7 linked regions of the Homo sapiens genome follow. The protein of the gene in region 1 purifies or fractionates together with the protein of each later gene. This does not show direct contact. Each region holds a gene or a part of one and is shown in the gene's direction. Other genes may lie near its edges.

What was found.
Region 2: the proteins of LPIN3 (region 1) and NFXL1 purify together in Homo sapiens (affinity purification with mass spectrometry; one large-scale study listed by BioGRID and IntAct). This does not show direct contact.
Region 3: the proteins of LPIN3 (region 1) and MAST3 purify together in Homo sapiens (affinity purification with mass spectrometry, with the first as the bait; one large-scale study listed by BioGRID). This does not show direct contact.
Region 4: the proteins of LPIN3 (region 1) and LRFN1 purify together in Homo sapiens (affinity purification with mass spectrometry, with the first as the bait; one large-scale study listed by BioGRID). This does not show direct contact.
Region 5: the proteins of LPIN3 (region 1) and TANC2 purify together in Homo sapiens (affinity purification with mass spectrometry, with the first as the bait; one large-scale study listed by BioGRID). This does not show direct contact.
Region 6: the proteins of LPIN3 (region 1) and CWC25 purify together in Homo sapiens (affinity purification with mass spectrometry, with the first as the bait; one large-scale study listed by BioGRID). This does not show direct contact.
Region 7: the proteins of LPIN3 (region 1) and RALGPS2 purify together in Homo sapiens (affinity purification with mass spectrometry, with the first as the bait; one large-scale study listed by BioGRID). This does not show direct contact.

Annotation. Positions count from the first base shown.
Region 1 is NC_000020.11:41,347,321-41,350,820, forward strand, and holds part of LPIN3 (phosphatidate phosphatase LPIN3), read left to right. Parts: intron 1-231; coding exon 232-327; intron 328-636; exon of another isoform or gene 637-729; intron 730-1,298; coding exon 1,299-1,567; intron 1,568-1,768; coding exon of another isoform or gene 1,769-1,771; coding exon 1,772-1,852; intron 1,853-2,453; coding exon 2,454-2,574; intron 2,575-2,734; coding exon 2,735-3,077; intron 3,078-3,500. UniProt on the Homo sapiens protein: Magnesium-dependent phosphatidate phosphatase enzyme which catalyzes the conversion of phosphatidic acid to diacylglycerol during triglyceride, phosphatidylcholine and phosphatidylethanolamine biosynthesis therefore regulates fatty acid metabolism.
Region 2 is NC_000004.12:47,901,084-47,904,583, reverse strand, and holds part of NFXL1 (NF-X1-type zinc finger protein NFXL1), read left to right. Parts: intron 1-1,260; coding exon 1,261-1,391; intron 1,392-3,500.
Region 3 is NC_000019.10:18,132,278-18,135,777, forward strand, and holds part of MAST3 (microtubule-associated serine/threonine-protein kinase 3), read left to right. Parts: intron 1-2,301; coding exon 2,302-2,434; intron 2,435-2,539; coding exon 2,540-2,705; intron 2,706-3,462; coding exon 3,463-3,500.
Region 4 is NC_000019.10:39,308,465-39,310,863, reverse strand, and holds part of LRFN1 (leucine-rich repeat and fibronectin type III domain-containing protein 1 precursor), read left to right. Parts: intron 1-2,321; coding exon 2,322-2,399. UniProt on the Homo sapiens protein: Promotes neurite outgrowth in hippocampal neurons. Involved in the regulation and maintenance of excitatory synapses. Induces the clustering of excitatory postsynaptic proteins, including DLG4, DLGAP1, GRIA1 and GRIN1.
Region 5 is NC_000017.11:63,417,235-63,420,734, forward strand, and holds part of TANC2 (protein TANC2), read left to right. Parts: intron 1-1,072; coding exon 1,073-1,173; intron 1,174-2,761; coding exon of another isoform or gene 2,762-2,764; coding exon 2,765-3,500. UniProt on the Homo sapiens protein: Scaffolding protein in the dendritic spines which acts as immobile postsynaptic posts able to recruit KIF1A-driven dense core vesicles to dendritic spines.
Region 6 is NC_000017.11:38,808,322-38,811,821, reverse strand, and holds part of CWC25 (pre-mRNA-splicing factor CWC25 homolog), read left to right. Parts: intron 1-1,226; coding exon 1,227-1,354; exon of another isoform or gene 1,355-1,546; intron 1,547-2,056; coding exon 2,057-2,120; intron 2,121-3,500. UniProt on the Homo sapiens protein: Involved in pre-mRNA splicing as component of the spliceosome.
Region 7 is NC_000001.11:178,917,244-178,919,791, forward strand, and holds part of RALGPS2 (ras-specific guanine nucleotide-releasing factor RalGPS2), read left to right. Parts: 3' UTR 1-2,548. UniProt on the Homo sapiens protein: Guanine nucleotide exchange factor for the small GTPase RALA. May be involved in cytoskeletal organization. May also be involved in the stimulation of transcription in a Ras-independent fashion.

The DNA of each region.
Region 1 (3,500 bases):
AGTGAGGGAGAGATGGGTAGGGAGCTCAGTGAAGGCCTCTCTGAGGAAGGGGAGATGCAGCAGAGCCCCCCTTCGTGGGGAGCAGCCAGGCACTTGAGGTCCGGAGGGAGGGAACCCCAGCAAGTATGGTGTTTGGGGCGGCAAGGAGCCACTGGAGGACCAGCCAGGAGGCCTGTGGTCGGAAGCATGGGCGTGAAGGCCCATGTCCCTGCCACCGCTTTCCATTTGCAGGTAGACATTGAGCTCAATGGGGAGCCTGTGGACTTGCACATGAAGCTTGGGGACAGCGGGGAGGCCTTCTTTGTTCAGGAGCTGGAGAGCGATGATGTGAGTCTGCCCTCCTAACAGCACCTGCCCCGCCCACCCCTTTCCTGTGCCTCTTCTGGGCAGAGCCTTGGGATTTGTCACCATCCTCGCCCTTCCCCGGGAGCACCCCACCAGCAGAGGTCTGAGGCAGGGGTATCAGTTGGGGCTGGCCTCTGGCACACGTGATATGCTGTGGGGGCCCAGAGGAAGAGGCCAGGGTACCAACTGACTCTATTTACTGGGAAGTTGGGGAAGGTTTCTCAGAAGACTGGACCCCTGAGCTGGGCCCCTGTGGGATGAAAAGGAGGCCTTCCCCAGGCAGCTTGAAGAGGAGGCGGGAGCTGAAGAAAGGGGCTGGGAAGTATAACATCTGGCTTGTCCTGGGTCTGGTGCCAGCTCCGTGTGGCTGGAACCTAGAAGTGTGTAAGTGGTGGGTGTTCGCACAGGGGAGGCAGGGCCCAGCAGAAGCCAGCAGAGGAGTTGAAACAGAACTTGAAAAACTTTGAGTCCCTACTGTAGGCCAGACACTGTGCAACAGACTCAGATGACGGGTGACCCCTGCCTTCAAAGAAAGTTCCAGGCTGTTCTGGGAGCTAGACACATAAACAATGGATGATGAGCCGTTTGGTCATTGCAGTGAGGGATGTTGGGATTGGGAGAGGGATAGTCAAGGCTCCTTCCTGGAGGAGGAGACATATGGCTGAATCTTAAAGCAGAAGTAGATGTCTGCTGTCATAGACTTGGGTAGAAGAGGAGATCAGAGGCCGATGCCAAGATCTCTGCCTGGCCTGCCAGGGTGGCAGGTGGCTCTGTTGGGGACCTCTGAGGCCAGCAGTGGCTACAGGGCCAGGCTGGTGCCTCCACACCTGTTTTCCTGACCCTAAATGAGCTCACTCCAGGGCTGGGACCCAGGCAAGGCTCAAGATGACTGTGTGGTGAGCGCAGCCCCACTAGGGTCAGCCCCCGACCTCAGTTCTTGGTCTGTTCCACAGGAACATGTGCCTCCCGGCCTGTGCACCTCACCCATCCCTTGGGGGGGTCTGTCTGGCTTCCCCTCGGACTCCCAGCTGGGCACTGCCAGTGAGCCTGAGGGCCTCGTCATGGCAGGCACGGCCTCCACTGGGCGGAGGAAGAGGCGTCGCAGGAGGAAACCCAAGCAGAAAGAGGATGCAGTGGCAACTGATTCTAGTCCAGAGGAACTGGAGGCAGGCGCTGAGAGTGAGCTATCCCTGCCGGAAAAGCTGAGGCCAGAGCCCCCAGGGTGTGTAAGGACCAAGGGACTTGAACCCCAGTTTGGGGGTTCAAGTGCTGTTTCCTCTGCTCATGCTGTGTGACTTTGGGCAAGGGCCTTGACCTCTCTGAGCAGTAGTTGCTTCACCTTACCAAGCCCCTGATGTCCAGGCTCTCATGCCTGCCTGGGGCATCCTGCCTGATCAGTGACCATTTCCTTGTGGCCCCTTAGCAGTGTCCAGTTGGAAGAGAAGTCTTCACTGCAGCCCAAAGACATCTACCCCTACTCGGATGGCGAGTGGCCCCCCCAGGCCAGGTAAGAGTCCAGGTGGGCTGCAGGCCAGGACTCCAGATCAAGGTCTGAGGTTTCCATTTGCATTTTTCCTGATGACTAATGACACAGGACCCATTTAATGTGTTTACTAGCCATTCGTATTTTTCCTTTGTAAAGAGTTCAAGTCTTTTATTGATTTTTTTAAATTGCGGTAAAATATACATAACATAAATTTACCATTTTAACTATTTCAAAGTGTATACAGTTCAGTGGCATTAAGTACATTCAGTGTTGAATGACCATCACCACTATCTAGTTCCAGAACATCCCATCCCCCAAATGGAAACCCTATGCCCATTAGGCAATCCAGCTACAACTTTGCCATCTTCTTTTTTTTTCCTTCCTTCCCTTCCTTCCTTCCTTCCTCCCTCCCATCCTTCTTCTTACTGGATTGTCTTCTTCTTGTTGATTAGTATAAGTTATTCATATATTTGTATACTCTTTAGATCTTTACATATTCCTTATATATTATGGATTCAACACAGGCATAAATATAGGTTGCACATATTTTTTTCCCTGGCTGGGGTGGGCAGCAGCGGGGATGGGTAGGCAGGCTCAAGGCCTCTCAATATGTCTCCTGCAGCCTCTCAGCAGGTGAGCTAACATCCCCTAAGAGCGACTCGGAGCTGGAGGTGCGGACCCCGGAGCCCAGTCCCCTAAGAGCCGAGTCCCACATGCAGTGGGCCTGGGGGAGGCTGCCTAAGGTGAGTCCCTCTGTATCAACCCCAGGCCCGGCCTTTCAGGGGCTCTGTGGCCCCCATGGGTCAGGGTTGGAGGGACTGAAACTCGGGCCACTGCCCCAAAAGCTTTGTGGGGCATGGGCCTTACCCTGGCCCACATCTTCCTCCATTTGTTCCACTAAAGGTGGCCAGAGCTGAGCGGCCCGAGTCCTCAGTGGTCCTTGAAGGCAGAGCTGGGGCAACCTCTCCTCCTCGGGGAGGACCCAGCACTCCCTCTACCTCTGTGGCTGGCGGCGTGGACCCTTTGGGACTCCCAATCCAGCAAACAGAGGCTGGTGCCGACCTTCAGCCTGACACAGAGGATCCCACTCTAGTGGGTCCCCCTCTCCACACCCCAGAGACAGAGGAAAGCAAGACTCAGAGCTCTGGGGACATGGGCCTCCCTCCTGCCTCCAAGTCATGGAGCTGGGCCACTCTGGAGGTTCCAGTTCCCACCGGGCAGCCAGAGAGGGTCTCCAGGGGGAAAGGTGAGTGACGCTGGGTCTCTCCCACTGCCTCCCTGGCCTCGCTCTGTCCCCTGGGTGGGTGCTGGGACTTCAAGTACATTTTGAGCACCTGCTGTGTGCTAGGTGCTGTTCTTGGCACCAGCCTCATGAAGCTCACAGTGCAGTGTGGGAGACAGATGCTGCATGTGTGGAAGGGCGTGCCACAGGCATAGTCATTGGTTGGAATGGGAGCTGTTTAAACCAGGTGGTCAGAGAAGGCCCCTCCGAGAAGGTGATGTTGGAGCTAAGACATGGATAATGAAGATTCAGCCAAGTGAGGAGCAGGGGAAGGGAATTCTAGGCAGAGGAAACAGTATGTGCCAGGGATGTAAGGCTGGAGAGAAGTTTCATGTCCAGAAACTGAAAGCAGCTGGCGTGCCTTGAGCAAGAAATGGAAGACGGCCG
Region 2 (3,500 bases), on another chromosome or scaffold:
GGTCATGTAGAGTGAATCAGAAATTTAACATGCTCTGGTTGGGTAGAAGAGTATAGCAGATACAGATGCCTTTTGTGCCTAGAGTCACATCTAGTTGGTTTACTCTGATTTCAGCTGCAGGGAATGCATAGTCTCTGCATGCAGATAGAAACCCACTTTAAACATTTGCTGTGTGTGTGCGTTTTTTCCGCCTCTCAATTTTGTTCTTGGAAATTGACTTAGCTAGTACATGGGTATAGTGCAGAAGCACTGGGGAGTTAAAGCCCCTTGCAGCAACATTGCACCACAGGGAGTTGGTAGGTGAATGCCCCAACCTCCTTTCCATTAGCGAGTGGGGCTGGGCAGTCCAAGGCGTGTTTTACATGGTTTTACAGAGGGTCCCCTGGAGGATTGAGCTTCTGTGGCCCTTAGTGGTAATCAGCTCAACCATATGCCATTCATTGGTTATTTCTTTTTCCCTGTCTAGTCCCCTTACTCCTGCATCCAAGTTCTTAGATACCGCTTTGGGGGTAACCCAAACTAAGAAGTCGGCTGTTTAATGCTGTTGTTAGCTCATGCGATATGCTACATGTCTGATTTTATCAAACAGTTGTAAAATGTTATAAGGAAAGGGGAACTGATTTTTATCAGTTTTATCAAAGTGTTTGGCAGGTTTTAAAAATTAATTTAGTATTATTTCTTAAGCTTTTAAATTATGTATATTCTTGTTTTTTGATTACCTAATTTTTAGAATTTAGCATTAGTTAGGTGTTAGACTAATAGGTTTTATATAACAAAAGGGCTGTGTAGAGATATATGTACATATTTATGTTTAAAGATTCTTTTGTAGTGTTATTTATACTTGGAAATAATCATCCAACAAGAAATTTAAGTACGTAAGTCTACATGGTGTAATGTATAGCTATAAATATGCTTATAGAAAAGACTATAAAGTTACATTTCAGTTATTATAGTATGACCTCATTTTTTAAAAGTATGAAAAAAATATATATATATAAATTTGGAGATTGTCCAGAATGTTAGCAGTAATTATTTCTAGCTGAATGAATCTGTTTGACTAATAATAATTTTCTTCGAAGTATCCTACATTTAAATGCATTTCCCATGAAACAGTTCTTCTGTTATACTGGAAGGAAAGACCTTTTTTCTTTAATCCTTAGGTAGCTCTTGAAAATAGTTTAGTGTGATACTCATTTTAAATTATTTTACAATTAACAAAGAAAAATTAACATATATTAACTTCTGATACATTTGTCTTAGGTTTGGAGCTGTTCGGGATGTTTCTGTATATTTCACATGCCCTGTATCCAGAAGTGGGCTAAAGACAGCCAGTTTCTTGTATCTTCTGTGACTGATGATGATTTTGGAAAGAAAGATTGTCCCTGGCCTTGGTAACTTTTTCTAATTAGTTGGATTATTATTATTATTTTCAGATGGAGTTTTGCTCTTGTCACGCAGGCTGGAGTGCAGTGGCGATCTTGGCTCACTGCAACCTCCACCTCCTGGGTTCAAGAGATTCTCCTGTCTCAGCCTCCTGAGTAGCTGGGATTATAGGCACCTGTCACTATGCCTGGCTAATTTTTTGTATTTTTAGTAGACACAGGGTTTCACCATGTCTGCCAGGCTGGTCTTGAACTCCTGACCTCAGGTGACCCACCCCAAAAAATCCCAAAGTGCCAACTAGGCTGGCACGCCACCACGCCTGGCCTAATTGGATTATTAAATTGTAGAATAAATGAAGATTGTAGATTCTAAGTTGCTTTATTGGTGGTTTCAATATCCATGTTGGGCTTTTAATTAGTCATTTGGTGTGTGAAGATGTGGAATCTTGATAAAGTCTTGTTTTTTTCAATTTGAATTTCTATAACTACTAGTTCCTTTTGATAACTAATAAATCATCCAGACTTAATTTTTCCTGTGCAAAACAATTCCTTAATTATCCTTTGAAAGGACTTTCAATTTTCTTTAGGACTGAGAATCATTCATAATTGTGATCTTCTTGTCCAGAATTCTATGAGTATGCATTATTATTACATTGTACAAGACTATCATTTAATGTATTTTGATTATAAGATTCCCAGTTTTATCCTCCCAAATCTCAAAACTGCAGGTGTATATTATACAATATCATTTTTTTACATTTATTAGTTTTGCTTATTATTGATGATTATTTGATCTGGAGAACTTTTGTTATATTTCCAGAAAGAGTTGGAGAGTAGAATTTTATATCTCTGCTAAGTAAAGACAATAAGAAATTTATTCATATTGGCTGCCCAGAGAGGTAGATTGACTGTCAAAGTAATGAAGCATAAGCTTCATGGGCTCTGTGTGGTCACATTTTGTAACTTTAGTAACTAATTTTATGTTTAAATTTTTTTTTTATTTTAATTTTAATTTTTTTTGAGACAGAGTTTTGCTGTATTGCCCAGGCTGGAGTGCAGTGGTGCGCTCTTGGCTCGCTGTAGCCACTGCTTGTCGGGTTCAAGCGATTCTCCCGTCTCAGCCTCCAGAGTAGGTGGGATTACAGGTGCCTGCCACCATGCCTGGCTAAGTTTTGTATTTTTAGTAGAGATGGGGTTTCACCATGTTGGCCAGGCTGGTCTTGAACTTCTGGCCTCAAGTGATCCACCCACCTTGGCCCCTCAAAGTGCTGAGATTACAGGCATGAGCCACTGCGTCTGGCCAGTGGTGTAGTTTTTAAAAACATTTAGATGTGCTAGTTACTTTTAGAAGAGTATGTAAAAATAATTCTCAGCAATCTGTGAGAGATTTTATTCTCCTGTTACCAGTGGGGATATTGAAGTTAATTGAAGGGAAATGACTTCTGACTCCTCACTCTTAAGTAGTGGAGCCAAAATTTGAAACCTAGGATTTCTTACTTTTAAATTCAGTGCTTTTTCTATTCTTCCACCTGAGTTATCTCTTATGACCTGGCTTTTAGAAATATTATTTTTCTTTTCATTGAATACACACTTTTTGGAAACTGTTTAACATTTCAAAGTATATTTGTTTTGCTCCTGCATATTATTTACTGGTGGTGGAGGAATTTTAGTGTCTAATAGGTACGGAATTAAGCCAGGTTTTAGTTTAGAGATTTAAACCTTATGTATATATTTTTTTACCCTCGCTCTTCTCACTTCTGTTTTAAGTAGTCGTTTTGCCACAGAGGAGGAAAGGATCAGTTAAAAAAAATGTACTGTTAACTTCTAATTTAAAAGGAACAACAGTTTAATCAGCTGTGCCATATACTTTGCATTCCATATTTCATATTTTTTTAAGAAAATAAATGACCATTCTGGTTAAGAACCCATTTTGTTTAATCCTCATCAAGATGGAGCTAGAACTTGGTAAAATGTTAATAATTTTAAGTTATTTTATGGAAATAAAAAATTTAAAATATAGGTTTCTACTAAGATACTGCTTTTTAATGAAGAAGATCTAGCATAATTACATTTCATTGTTGGCATCCCATTATTTAAAATAAAACTCATGCGTTTGCA
Region 3 (3,500 bases), on another chromosome or scaffold:
CTGTATGCAGGGGAAGGCCGGTGCACTTATGGAGGTGCTGCCAATCCAGGGGAGAGGATGTGCACTTAGGATGCACACACTGTATACAGGAGAAGGGGCTGCGCACCCAGAGCTGCTGCTGCACAAGGGGAGAGAACATGCACTTATAAGACACCAACTACACACACAGAACAGGATTATGCAATTTGCGAGACCTTACATGTAAAGACAGTGACCGTGCATGTCTTGAGCACCTGCTGTATATTAGTGCAGGAAAGCAAGGAAGAGAACGTGTTTACTGAGAGCCTTAGGATGTTTATTTTATTCTGGTAGGTGGTAAGCACCTACTGCATGCCAGACCCTCTGTGGGCAACTGGGAGACACAGGGCCACCTGCTTTGAAACCCCTGTATTATTTTCTCCTCTGCATTTATTGAGCGCCTGCTGTGTGCAGGGAAAAAGGAATGCCTGTTTGTCAGGTGTCCTCGAGATACGAGGCAAGAACTGACATTTCTCACATACATGTGTGGAGATGTGAACATGAGTGTTAAGAGCCTTGCATGTAGGCCAGGCTTGGTGGCTCACACCTGTAATCCCAGCACTTTGGGAGGCCAAGGCGGGCGGATCACCTGAGGTCAGGAGTTCAAGCCCAGCCTGGCCAACATAGTGAAACCTTGTCTCTACTAAAAATACAAAAATCAGCTGGGAGTGGTAGCGCGCACTTGTAGTCCCAGCTACTCAGGAGGCTGAGGCAGGAGAATCTCTTGAACCCGGCGGAGGTTGCAATGAGCCAAGATCGTGCCACTGCACCCAAGCCTGGGCGACAGAGCGAGACTCCATCTTAAAAAAAAAAAAAAGCGCCTCGCATGTTTTCAGGGCATTTTGCAGTTGGCAAGTGGCTTAGAAAACAGACATGTATGTGGCACCTGCTGTATACTTGGGCCTGTGCTCGATGCTCTAAGGAACTCAGAAGCATGAATAACTCCTTACACACTAACGTTGGGTTTCTATATCACATTTTCTTGGTTGGCATGTACTTGTTAGGCACCAGGTGTATACAAAATAGGCAGAAGAACAGTTATTAGGCAATGACTGTGTACCTGGCCCAGAACACTTTATCTTTATTTATTTATTTATTTTTTGAGACAGGGACAGTCTTTGTCGCCCGGGCTGGAGTACAGTGGCGCAGTCTTGGCTCACTGCAACCTCCGCCTACCGGGTTCAAGCAATATTCCTGCCTCAGCTTCCCGAGTAGCTGGGATTACAGGCATGCGCCACCACTACGCCCAGCTAATTTTTTTTTTTTTTTTTTTTTTTGAGACGGGGTCTCACTCTGTCGCCAGGCTGGAGTGCAGTGGTGCGATCTCGGCTCACTGCAACCTCAGAGTCCCTGGTTCAAGCGATTCTCCTGCCTCAGCCTTCCAATTAGCTGGGATTACAGGCATGCGCCACCACGCCCAGATAATTTTTGTATTTTTAGTAGAGACGGGGTTTCACCATGTTGGTCAGGCTGGTTTTGAACTCCCGACCTCAGGTGATCTGCCGGCTTCGGCCTCCCAAAGTGCTGGGATTACAGTTGTGAGCCACTGCGCCCGGCAAATGAACTCATTTTTAAAACTCTCACGCAAGTACAGTATATACTGCTGTTTAGGTTTTCCTATGGACTTAAATATATAAATGTTTTGCTACATCATAGTGTCTTATGCACCAGCTGTATGAAGTCGCATTTCCGTGCACCTTCTGGGTGCATCTGCCACTTAAAAATACATTCCAGAGAATTCACTGTGTATAACCATCATTTAATGAACTATGTAGTCAGTACCTCCTGTTTGCTCCAGCTCTGTAAAGAAACAATTCTGTGCCGGCACTTTGGGAGGCCGAGGCAGGTGAACTACCTGAGATCAGGAGTTCAAGACCAGCCTGACCAACACGGCAAAACCCCGTCTCTACTAAAAGTACACTAAAAAAATATATATATATATACACACACACACATATACGCACACACAGTAGAGACCAGGCATGCTGGCTCACACCTGTCATGCCAGCACTTTCAAAGGTGGGAGGATTGCTTGAGGCCAGCAATTCAAGACCAGCCTGGGCAACATAGCAAGACCTTATGTCTACAAAAAAAACCTTAGCTGGGTGTGGTGGTGTGCACCTGTAGTTCCAGCTACTTGGGAGGCTGAGCAGGAGGATCGCTAGGGCCCAGGAGTTGGAGGCAGAGCTCTGCCCATCTCAGGCGGAGCCAAGGTCTAGGGCAGAAGGGGAGGCCAGGCACCCCAGCCCCCCAGCTCTGAGCACACTCCTAACCTGCCCACAGTCTGCTCATCACCTCGCTTGGCCACATCAAGCTCACGGACTTCGGCCTGTCCAAGATCGGCCTCATGAGCATGGCCACCAACCTCTATGAGGGCCACATCGAGAAGGACGCCCGAGAGTTCATCGACAAGCAGGTGGGCGGGCAGGTGGGTGGGCAGCCCCGGGATGCCTCCTCCTCTCTCCTGGGACCTCTCTTGGGCTGGGGGCTGGCCTCAGTTTCCCCGTTCTCCCTGGCCCAGGTGTGTGGGACGCCGGAGTACATAGCCCCCGAGGTGATCTTCCGCCAGGGCTATGGGAAGCCAGTGGACTGGTGGGCCATGGGCGTCGTCCTCTATGAGTTTCTGGTGGGCTGCGTGCCTTTCTTTGGAGATACCCCCGAGGAACTCTTCGGTCAGGTGGTCAGCGGTGCGTTTCCTCCACGGGCCTGGGTTTGAGCTGCAGCCCCACCAGAGCTCTGGGCAGCGGTCCTCCACCCGCATGTCAGGGAGAGAAGCAGGAAGAGGGGAGGGAGTTGGATGCCAGGTGGGGAGGCGGTGGGGTGCTGAGTGAGGCGGGTGGCTGGATTAATTATAGGGTCACAGAGGCTTCACTGAAGTGACTTGTGAGGCTGGGCACAGTGGCAAACACCTGTAATTCCAGCACTTTGGGAGGCTGAGGCGGGAGGATCATATAAGGTCAGGAGTTTAAGACCAGCCTGGACAACATGGTGAAACCCCATCTCTACTAAAAATACAAAAATTAGCCGAGCATGGTGGCGGGCACCTGTAATCCCAGCTACTTGGGAGGCTGAGGCAAGAGAATCACTTGAACCCAGGAGGCAGAGGTTGCAGTGAGCTGAGATTGTGCCACTGCACTCCAGCCTGGGTGACAGAGCGAGACTCCATCTCAAAAAATAAAAAAAAGAAGTGACATGTGAGCAGAGACCTGCAAGAACCTGAGAATGAGAGAAAGCCATAGAGACAGAAAAGAGAAAGGTGGCTCTGAGCATAGGGCACAGCTGTGGCAAAGGCTGTCAGTGGGTACCAAGCCTGCCACGTTGCAGGGGCAGAGGAGGCCAGTGGCTTGGAGTACAGTGAAGTGAGGGGAAATGGTGGATGGTACTAGAAAGGGGTACCCTGCCTTCTCCCTCCCTCCCTCATTTTACCTCCCTCCCTCATTTTAGATGAGATCATGTGGCCAGAGGGAGATGAGGCCCTTCCA
Region 4 (2,399 bases), on another chromosome or scaffold:
GGTGGCTCTTGGTAGTGGGAGAACCTCCTGGAGGTGGGATGACAGAGGTGGAGCTTCAGGGCCAGAAGGTGGCTCTGCTGGAGGGGAAGCGGAAGCATCGGAGAGATAAGCAGGCCTTCGGAGGTGGGGATGTGGCCTGTCAGAGGGGGTGGAGCTTGTTCTGCATGGTCCCACGAAGAGGAAGGGGCAGTCCTTGTCTCCCGGGACCCACCAAGAGTCTTTGCTGGAGAAGAGAGCTTGTGAGGTTGCATCCTGGCCATGCCAATCAATGTGGAACGGGCAGTCCAGGTTTAGCTGAGGCTGGACATGGCCCACAGTGTGGAAACGATGTGCTCAACAGAAGAGGGCCAAGGCCTAGCAGGAATGGCCCTCCAGAGGGGTAGATCTTATAGATGGGAGGAATGCAATGGGCTGGATAGTGTGAGCCACAGCAAGGGTTACTGGCCAACACGAGGTGTGATGCAAGCTAATGATGATATCATTAAGTGCCAGGTCCTGGCTGTGTTAACTCATTCATTCCTCACACCATCTCTATGATGTAGGAATTATTATCATCCCCATTTGGGGAAAATGAGACACAGGGAGGTTAAGAAACTTGGCGAAGTTCGCCGGGCGTGGTGGTTCATGACTGTAATCCCAGCACTTTGGGAGATCGAGGCGGATGGATCACCTGAGGTCAGAAGTTTGAGACCAGCTTGGCCAACGTGGCGAAACCCCATCTCTACTAAAAATACAAAAATTAGCCAGGTGTGGTGGTGGGTGCCTGTAATCTCAGCTGTCCGGGAGGCTGAGGCAGGAGAATCACTTGAACCCGGAAGGCAGAGATTGCAGTGAGCCGAGATCGCGTCATTGTACTCCAGCCTGGGTGACACAGCGAGAGTCTGTCTCAAACAAAACAAAATGAAACAAAAGAGAAACTTGCCTGAGGTCACAGAGCAAGCAAGTGGCAGAGGAGAGACTCAAACCCGGGCAATCTGGCCCCCAGCCTTTGTCATCTTAACCACTTCTCTACACTAGTCTTCATTCGAGGGGAGGGGCCTACAGCAAGAAAGGAATATGGTGTGTGCTTGGCTACGTTTGACCCCTTTACGGAAGAAACTTACCTGGTAGCGTGATTTGGTGACTTCTGGTGGCACATGAACATATGAGGTGGTTGCCTTTAATATCTGGACAAGGAGCAGGGCCTGTAGTCTGGATGTGGCCTATACACAGTAGGGGAACCATCCTTAGTGGGCCATTGTGGGGTGTGCCTGGAAGCCACATTTCATTTGGTTGGGGAATGGCCTGTAGCAATGTCAGGGAACATGTAGTTAAGGGACTTGGAAACTGTTCCAGGACATAGACAAAGCTAGATGGTTTTTTTTTTTTTTTTTTTTTTTTTTTTTGGTTTGTTTGTTTTTTGAGACAGAGTCTCGGTCTTGCGGTCTTGTAGCCCAAGCTAGAGTGCAATGATGTGGTCTCGGCTCACTGCAACCTCCACCTCCCGGGTTCAAGCGATTTTCCTGCCTCAGCCTCCCGAGTAGCTAGGATTACAGGTGCCTGCCACCACGCCTGGCTAATTTTTGTATTTTTAATAGAGACAGGGTTACCATGTTGGCCAGGCCAGTCTTGAACTCCTAACCTCAGGTGATCCACCCTTCTTAGCCTTCCAAAGTGTTGGGATTACAGGCGTGAGCCACTGCAGCCGGCCAAAGCTAGATGTTTTACCCAAAGGTGCTGCATGCAGATAAGGGGGAGCGACCTGCATCATGGTTTTCCCTGAAAGGCAGGAATATGTATAAAAGAGGAACTAGAAGAGCATCCATTGTTCCAGTAGGAATATGACAGGCGCTGTGAGCTGACCTTAGTGTCCACCTGAGTGGGGGATGGGGCATGCAGAAAAGGGGAGGTGGCCAGTAGCGTTGGCCCAGTTTTGGGGTAGAAATGCCTAGATGAAGGACCTTGAATGGCAGTTGTCCTAGCAAGAGTGAGACATAGCTAGGGAGCATGTCCCTTGAGGGCAGGGCTTAAAAGCCATAGCACTTCTCCCCTGCAGGGGCCGGGATATGCAGAGGAGGTAATACGAATGATAGATATATTGTCCCAGTGGGTGATGGGACACAGCCAGGAGGTGGGTCTGAGGGCGGGGCATACAGATGAGGGGTGTGAAAGGGTGGGAATATGTTGATGGAGGCGGGGCTTGAATTGCTGCTGTTGTCTCAGTAGCGGCTGAGACTTCGATAGCAGGGTTTAGTCCCCACTGTTCACCATGGGCGGGGCATAAAGCGAAGGGGCGTGGTTCGGGGGGACTAACCCCGCCCTGAACCCGCCCCCTCCTACAGGATGATCCCGTCCACCAGTCAGACCTTCCTGGTGAATGACCTGGCGGCGGGCCGTGCCTACGACTTGTGCGTGCTGGC
Region 5 (3,500 bases), on another chromosome or scaffold:
TTTACCTATGCCCCAGGGCCTTTGTTCTGCCCAAGGCCTTGTTTTCTGCCTTAGGACTCATGACCATAACCAGAGGCTACCATGCTATACTGTGGCTTTGACACTAAAAGAAGGGGAAAGCCTTCTCTTTTAGCTTAGTATTTAAGGGAATACTGAAAACCATAGGCTGCCTAGTCGGCGTTGTTCCCCACCCCACCCCCCAGTCTCTGTTTCCAGGGGTTCTCAGGAATGACATGCCTGTGAGCGTGTTCCTCTAGGGAGAGCACAGACCTCAGTCACAGCTGGGGTCTTCTCTTGTTTTGTTTTATTTTTAATTTTAAGTGTTTCCTAAGTAAGGAACCAGTTAAAAAAAGGAACAGATCAGAGAAGCCTCTGTGAAATAGAAAGAAAACGATAATTAATGAGCACCTACTATGTGCCGGGAACTGTGCAGGGCTTTTAAATACTGTATCACACTTGATCCTACCCCCGGGGTAGGTATGGATGAGAAAATACACTATACACTTGGGGGTTATGAAGCTGGTCAGAGAATTGAACCCAGGTCTGTCTGACACCCCCTCTCCCTCTAGTCTCTGTAGTCAGTGCAGTTTCCTTTACAGACGTCATCCTCCCGGACTTTACAGGACACCTTCTCACCTGTCCCTTAGAAAGCCACAGTGTAGTGCATGTAGCAGGAAGGTGTGGGGCTCAGACCAGGGTCCACGTGAAATGTGGACATGTGTGCGTTTGCCTCCTACATGCATGGATAACTTCAGGAGCTTCACTGGAAAGGGTTGGTGTTTGGCTTCCGGGCTGAGAACTTTATTAGAAAGGCAAAAAGAGGGAAAATTAAAACTATTTTAATATTCTGGGCAGATAAAGTCCAGTGAGCAGTCGCAGCGCTACACAGGACAAAGGCAGAAGGAACTTTCAGTCCACAGGCCACGCGGCTTGAGCCATGTCAGGCACGTCTAGCGTCCCAGGCGTTCCATCCATGAATGTCAAAAAATGTACAAATAATTTGTTTTATTCCCAAGTTGTCTATTTTTTATATCTCATCAATGACTCATTTGCACACCTATTGTAATGACAGGATTTTGGAATGGCGGAGGAATTTGCTACTAAGGCCCTGGAGCTGAAACCGAAATCTTATGAAGCTTACTATGCGAGAGCAAGGGCAAAACGCAGCAGCAGGTGAGGAGAGAGAGAGAGGGTGAAAGCAAGAGGTCTCTTTTCTGAAAATTTGGCCAAGGCAGCGTCGGCCACCCTGGGGCATATGTACCCAAATACATCTCTGTCCTTGAGAACTGTCAGGGCCAAGCTTTGGGGATGGCTCCCATAGCACAGCCCTCAGCTCAAGATCAGCAAATCTGCTGGGCTGTGGAGGCCACGAATGTTTCACTTCGGGAGAAAAACACTTTTTCACTGGAGAATGGCAGCTTCTTCCAAGAAGCCTCTGCCGTATCTCAGGCATTTTTCAACCCCCAGAGCAGCTAGCACAAAGAGACAACGGCGACTTAAAGAAATCACTTAAGCAGAGCACCCCACCCCCGCTTTAGAGGGAAAGTAGGATGGTTCACTTAACATCACAGGTTCCTCTTCCTTCTCCCATAGGCGTTTGAGGAATCCCGGATTAGTTAGTCTTCCCTCTGGGGCTCTCCTCAAGTCTGGTGGCATCAGACCCCCTTCCACCTAAACCATCACCCACCACACACACACAGAGTCAAGAGGTCCTTGCTGCCAGGATGGAGAGGACCCTCTAAGAGAACACCATTCCACATTCCTTGTGCCCATCTGCTTTAGTTTGGCCACTGGGCAGAAAAGCTCCCAGAATAACCTAGAACCTGCCATCAGTGATCTTTGTGTAACTTGTCACTGTCTCTTATGCCTCCTGCCCTCCTCCTCCCCAGCTGCATGGGAAAGAACTGCTTCAGGTTCACTGCTATGGCCAGGGGCACATGGTCCCGAAAATCACACCCAGCTTGAGGCTAGTGATGGTGGTGGCAGTGATCGCACTCTTACCTAGCTGGGGCAACGAAGTCCTCACAGAAATCTGACTGAAATTCTCCTTCCCTCTGGGTAGTTCCTTTTTCACAAGGTCAGTTGCCCCTGTCAGGTGATATTAGTAGAGAAGATGGGAATGTCTCTGACAGTTCATTTCTTCATTTGTAAATTAGAGTCTCCTTGGAGTCAGCTCAGCTCCAGCCCCGAGTGACCTAGTCAGCAAGCCTAATGCCTGCCCCACTTTGATAGAGCAAATGGAGACACAGCAATTCTGAGAGATGAGGGTTAGAAAGGGCAGAGGACAGGGTTCTTGCCTAGAGTAGAACAGGCCTGAAATTTGGAGCTAAAATATTGAGAATATAAAGAAAAATTTCTGCTGGATCAGCAAGATTTTTAAATATGTAGTTTTTTTTGTTCCTAAGCTACTTGACAGTGACCCTGTAAATGACAACCCCACCCAACTCTCATACTGCCTGGTGTGTGTTTGGGCACCAAAACAACTTCCCGAAGGGCCTGGCTGGACTGACAAAATGGGGCATTTCTCCACTATTCCCAGAGAGGCCAGAAGGAAGATGGAGGCCGAATGGGTTAGGGAATCATTCGGACTCTTCCAGAATGAGTCTTCCTGTTTCCTTCCCTATAAATCCAACTAAACCGAAATACCCCAGACTCCCACAGACGCCACCACAGCTCTCTGAGATAGTGACCATGTTCTCAGCTCTTGGTGATTTCTCTGGATTCAGAATAACTCCAGTTCCTGTGTTCACATTTTGTCAAGCAGACAGTTCGCAGCAGCCTTAGAGGACCTGAACGAGGCCATCAAGCTGTGTCCCAACAACCGTGAGATCCAGAGACTTCTGCTGAGAGTGGAAGAAGAGTGTAGACAGATGCAGCAGCCACAGCAGCCACCGCCGCCACCGCAGCCTCAGCAGCAGTTGCCGGAAGAAGCAGAACCTGAGCCACAGCATGAAGACATATACTCTGTACAGGATATATTCGAGGAGGAGTACCTGGAACAGGATGTTGAAAATGTTTCCATTGGCCTCCAGACAGAGGCCCGGCCCAGCCAGGGGCTCCCGGTCATCCAGAGCCCACCCTCCTCTCCCCCGCATCGGGACTCAGCCTACATCTCCAGCTCACCTCTTGGCTCTCATCAGGTTTTTGACTTCCGGTCCAGTAGTTCTGTAGGCTCTCCCACTAGACAGACCTATCAGTCCACCTCACCTGCCCTTTCTCCAACTCATCAGAACTCACATTACAGGCCTAGCCCACCACACACTTCCCCGGCTCATCAGGGAGGATCTTACCGTTTCAGCCCCCCTCCTGTGGGAGGACAGGGCAAAGAATACCCAAGCCCTCCCCCTTCCCCTCTCCGGAGAGGCCCTCAGTATCGGGCCAGCCCTCCAGCTGAAAGTATGAGTGTCTATAGATCCCAGTCTGGTTCACCCGTGCGCTATCAGCAGGAAACAAGCGTCAGTCAGCTTCCTGGCAGACCCAAATCTCCATTATCCAAAATG
Region 6 (3,500 bases), on another chromosome or scaffold:
GTTCCTGTGACACAGAATGGAAACTCCTAGGCAGTGGTTTTGGTGACTGTTTAAAAACACAAATTCTTAGTCTCACCTACCAGATACCAGTTCAGTAGTTGGGGGTGTTAGTGCACGGCCAGGGTTAAGACCCTTCCCCTGGTGTGTTGACAGGGAACCCCTATAATGTCCTGGACTTCTGTAGACCCAGAGGCATGGAGTCAGGCAGTTTGTGCATGAGCCACGCCCCTCAAAGGAGACTGATAGGGGTCTCAGTAATCTTTTTTTTTTTTTTTTTTTTTGAGACGGAGTCTCGCTCTGTTGCCCAAGGTGGAGTGCAGTGGTGCAGTGACACGATCTTAGCTCACTGCAAACTCCGCCTCCCAGGTTCATGCCATTCTCCTGCCTCAGCCTCCTGAGTAGCTGGGACTACAGGCGCCTGCTACCATGCCCAGCTAATTTTTTGTATTTTTAGTAGTGATGGTGTTTCACCGTGTTAGCCAGGATGGTCTCCTTCTCCTGACCTTGTGATCCACCCGCCTTGGCCTCCCAAAGTGCTGGGATTACAGGTATGAGCCACCCCGCCTGGGCTTTTTGTTTTTTTTTAATGAGATGGAGTCTCACTCTGTCGCCCAGGCTGCTGGAGTGCAGTGGCGTGATCTCAGCTCACTGCAACCTCTGCCTCCTGGGTTCAAGTGATTCTTCTGCCTCAGCCTCCCGAGTAGCTAGAACTACAGGTACACACCACCACACCCAGCTAATTTTTGTATTTTTAGTAGAGATGGTCTTTCACCATATTGGCCAGGGTGGTCTCGAACTCCTGACCTTGTGATCCTCCCACCTCAGCCTCTCAAAGTGCTGAGAGATTACAGGCGTGAGCCACCATGCCCAGCCAGTAATCTTTTTTTTTTTTTTTTTTTTTGAGACACAGTTTCACTCTGTCACCCAGGCTGAAGTGCAGTGGCACAATCTCGGCCCACTGCAACCTCTGCCTCCTGGTTCAGGTGATTCTTGTACCTCACCTCTCAAGTAGCTGGTATTACAGGTGCCCACCACCACACCCAGCTGATTTTTGTATTTTTAGTAGAGATGGGGTTTTGCCATGTTGGCCAGGCTGGTCTCGAACTCCGGACCTCAAGTGATGATCTGCTCCACTCAGCCTCCCAAAGTGCTGGGATTACAGGCATGAGCCACTGCGCTGGCTGGTCTCAGTAATCTTGTGTGCTTGTGTTCTCGGCATTTTCCAGTTGCAAATGAGTCTGGAAAAAAAGGAGAAGAAGAAAAAGAAGGAGAAGAAAAAGAAGCACAAGAAACATAAGCACAGAAGCTCGAGTAGTGATCGTTCCAGCAGCGAGGATGAGCACAGTGCAGGGAGGTGAGCATGTGGCGACTGGCCTCCCTTCTCGTTGATTCACTTGCTCATTCACTCATTCATTCCACAGACATGAACACCTGCCCTGTGCTGGAAGCTGCCAGGTACTGGGCATTCAGTGATGAACACTTGAACATGGGCCCAGTGCCCACAGAGCTTGCCATCTAATGCTAGAGTTCCTTGGAGATGCTAAATGTGAGTGGGTATCTTGGCCATGCTGCTGGAGAGAGACCCTTAATAATGCTGACTTTAGCCTAGTAGGTCTTAGGTAGGTCAGACATCCTGGGGGTGACTCTGTTTCATCTCAGCTTAGGATTCCTTCAAGACTGAAGTGGGCTTTATATAGGCTTTTTTTAATGGACTGATGGCTGATGTGGGCCCATTTTGCATGTCTTCCTGTGGAAGCAGTCAGCTCCGCCGCTGCTGAGTCACTATTTGTCCCTGGAATAGCAGCATGAAGTGAGAGGAGAAGGTGTTCAGGCGTTGGGGCTTAGAAGCGAGGCCCACAGTTTTTCACAGGAAAATTTGATTGTGCTGATGCATTTTTCGGCATAGACAGTCCAAATAGAGAAACGTACTGCCAGGTAACTGCTGGGAGGCGGAAAGGTCACATTGGAGGCAAGAAGCATAGTTCAGCATAAGATATTTAAATTGGACCTATATATATTTTCTTTTTCAATGAGTGTGTGTATTTTGATCTCTTAGATCACAGAAGAAGATGGCAAATTCCTCCCCTGTTTTGTCCAAAGTCCCTGGATATGGCTTACAGGTAGGGATGTGGGCTTCTTGAAAGGAGTGACTGTGGGACTGTGGGATGTGCCACTTGGACAATGTGGATAGCAGGGAGGTGGGCAGTGAAGCCTGGGCTGCTGGGAAACAGGCCCATTCTTATCGCTGAGCACCTTCTTGTGGCTGATGACCCTCTGAGCAGAGAGACTAAACCACCAATGGGGCATTGAGACATTCTACCCATCCCTCTACAAATAATTTACATGAAATGCACACATTTTAAGTGTATAGGTTTTTTTGTTTTTTTTTTTTTTTGAGACGGAGTCTCGCTTGTCACCCAGGCTGGAGTGCAGTGGCGCGATCTCGGCTCACTGCAACCTCTGCCTTCCGGGTTCAAGCTATTCTCCTGCTTTAGCCTCCCGAGTAGCTGGGATTACAGGCGCCCACCACCACGCCCGACTAATTTTTGTATTTTTAGTAGAGACAGGGTTTCGTCATGTTGGCCAGGATGGTCTTGAACTCCTGACCTCAGGTGATCCCTCCGCCTCGGCCTCCCAAAGTGCTGGGATTACAGGTGTGAGCCACCGTGCCTGGCCTAAGTGTGTAGGTTGATGATTTTTGACAAACATAAATCTGCTGGGTTCTTTTTTTTTTTTTTTGAGTAGCAGTGCATCATTATTTTGCCTAGGCTGGTCTCGAACTCCTGAGCTTAAGCAATCTTCTGAGTAGCTGGAAGTACAAGTTCAAGGCACCTGGCTTGACTTCTGTATTTCTGTATTTTTTTTTTTTTTTTTTGAGGTGGAGTTTTGCTCTTGTTGCCCAGGTTAGAGTGCAATGGCGCGATCTCAGCTCACCACAACCTCGACCTCCTGGGTTCAAGCAATTCTCCTGCCTCAGCCTCCCGAGTAGCTGGGATTACAGGCATGCACCACCATGCCCGGCTAATTTTGTATTTTTAGTAGAGACAGGGTTTCTCCATGTCAACCAGGCTGGAGTGCAATGGTGCAATCTCAGCTCACTGCAACCTCTGCCTCCTGGGTTCAAGCGATTCTCCTGCCTCAGCCTCCTGAGTAGCTGGGATTACAGGCACCTGCCATCACACCTGGCTAATTTTTGTATTTTTAATAGAGACAGGGTTTCTCCATGTTCGTCAGGCTGGTCTCAAACTCCTGGCCTCAAGCTATCCGCCTGTCTCGGCCTCCCAAAGTGCTGGGATTATAGGCGTGAGCCACCATGCCTGGCCTCATATTTCTGTATTTTTAACCTTGGGTCCTGTCCTCCATGCTTCTGCATCTCGCTCTTCCTTAACCTATAGTGAAGAGCTAAGCCAGGTGTATTCTTTTCTTTCTTTTTTTTTTTTGAGAGGGAGTCTCGCTCTGTCGCCCAGGCTGGAGTGCAATGGTGCGATCTCGGCTCACTG
Region 7 (2,548 bases), on another chromosome or scaffold:
ACAATAATTAGATCTTTTTCCAAGTTAATTGGGTTTTCCCTTCTCCCAGTCATAGGTGGTTTTTATCATCAAGACAGACTGATATTTTGTCAGGATATTTTCTTTTACAGTGTTTGATGTGCATAATGCCAGAGTTATTTTTTTATTATTCATTTTCTCTCTTTTTGTTCAATATGAGATTCAGGATCATATTTGTTTAAAAGGTAACACATAGAGATGTATGTATATATTTTGTTATAAGACATACAAAATAATTTTAAGAGGGATAAAGGTGAAAATATCAGATTCTGGAAATTTTAAGTATCTAAACTTTATACTTGTATGATTTACCATAAACATACCAAAACATTTTTCTGAAAATTTACTGTCGGTCTCTGACATGAAACCGTATTTTGTCAGTAGTTGACCAAGCAGTTTTATGAGAACTCTTCTATGCAATGATGCATTTAATTTCTAAAGTAAATGTTGAATTATTAAAAAAAAAGTTTGAAGGTAAGATGCCTTAGAATTTTAATGAAAAATGACACTCAAACAAAGGCTATATGTCGAATGTTATAAACTCTTGAGACATAATGAATTTTAGCAGTGGCCTAGAGTAAGGTAATGCTTTGTGACTGATATCTACTAATAGACTTCTGTTACTTTGGGCCTCACATAAAATTTCTCACATTCGTATTCTTAGAGAATTTTATACTTTTTTATTATAAGTATTTTGCCCTTGAGTCCATGAAACTTCAATAGAAAATATTGCTTATACAATAATTAGCTTAAAATCCATCCAAAGGAAAAGAGAAGAGCTTTTTTTGAGTGTTAAGTTTTTTAATTTAGTATTCTGTTTGGAAAAGATGTTAAGAGTTCAAATATGCTTCTTATGTAACAGAAATACCATTATTTCTGGGGTTTAGTGACACAGGCTGGAGAGGACAAAAGTTTCCTGTCCTGAATGATTTTTCAATTAATGCTCTAAGCTTAACCCATGTTGGGTAATAGAAAGACATAGCCAGCAGTATTACTACGTAGACCTTGCACATCTTACTTTTGTTTTGCATTTTTAAAAATTTCTTAATTTGTTTATTTCTCTTCAGAAATAGCGTTTTTAACAGTGTATGTGCTTTTTTAAAAAGTATTGTGAATGAGAACCCTGTGGATTTTTTTTATTTCATTTGTTTGTCATAATAAGCTAACGTAGAAATGTTGTAGGTTAACCATATCTGTGGAAATATGCAGTTGGAAGTCAGAGCCTGACATCACATAGTTTTGCCAAAGGGAGAGAGCTAAGCTGGAAGATGTTTTTGATACTTTCGGCTCTAAACATTAATGGATGTTTGCGTAGAGTAAGATAGCGTTCAAATTTGGTTAATAGTTTATAGATAGACTTGTGGCCTCTGACTGACTAAATTTCTTAACAGCACAGAAGTCGTTGTTTTTCTGTCTTTAAAATTTATTCATTCAGAAAATTAGTCATTGCTTTTTAAGATTATTTTAGCATTTGAAGCAAATTGAAAACAGAAAAGTGACTTAAAATAGTGTAGGTGAATTTTTTATCTATAATTTACCAAATAATACCTGATAATAATTCAAAGAAAATATGTTACCAAAATATATTAAATATATAGGTAGTTCATTCGTGGGAAGATGAATCTTCTTATTAAGCCTGCCCTCAATTGTAAATAAGTGACTCAAAAACTCAAAATGTTCATCAGCATTCAGGTCATTTGTTTCACCCTTAGCCAAGAAGAACTCATTAGAAATTCAGTTATAATTTCAATTTAAGCCTGTTTATGATAAGCATAATGATTGGCATGTTATATAGCCTGTTGAAAATAACTACAGAATGACCTTCCAGAGCACTGTTTTTGGCCTCGTGCCCGCTCTGTTCAGGCTCTGCTTGTTTTTCAGAATATGATTTTTACCTCCAGACAGTAAGAATTGAACAAGAACTGATCAAACACACCTTCCTATTTTGTTTTCTTCACTATGTAAATATTATTTGGGCAAACATTACAAAAAGGGATCCAAACAATTTGAGTTTCAGTATTTTTTTCTCCCTAGGCATGTGCTTCAATTTCAAATATTTTTTTCTGTGTGGAAAATGCCATGTAACTATTGCACTACCTTCTGTGTGGACTGTGTTGGTATTGGTTCTTTCTGTATATCAAAAGTCAGGGTGTTTATAACTGCAAAGTTTGTATAAGTGGCTTTATTCCTCTTCTAGAAGATTTATGAGGAGCCTAGGAAGCACTATTGGTACAGGAGGAAAAAAGAATGGAAAACATGTTTACAGACTCTAGCTTTCCTTATTAGCTTAAACTGGGGCCCTCAAAGAGCAGCCTGTTGATCTTTTGGCCAAATGACTTGAGCATAAGTCTTTTATTTCTTTTTAAGGTTAAATCGTAAACTGTATACCTTTACTACTGAAAACAAAACTATAGGGCATCATACTAATTGAAAATCAATAGTAATGGGTTCCATCCATTAGCTTTTTAAATGAATAGATCTGGTATTGATTTCCTTCCTGTTTTTTTGAGGCACATTCCTTTACAACCAG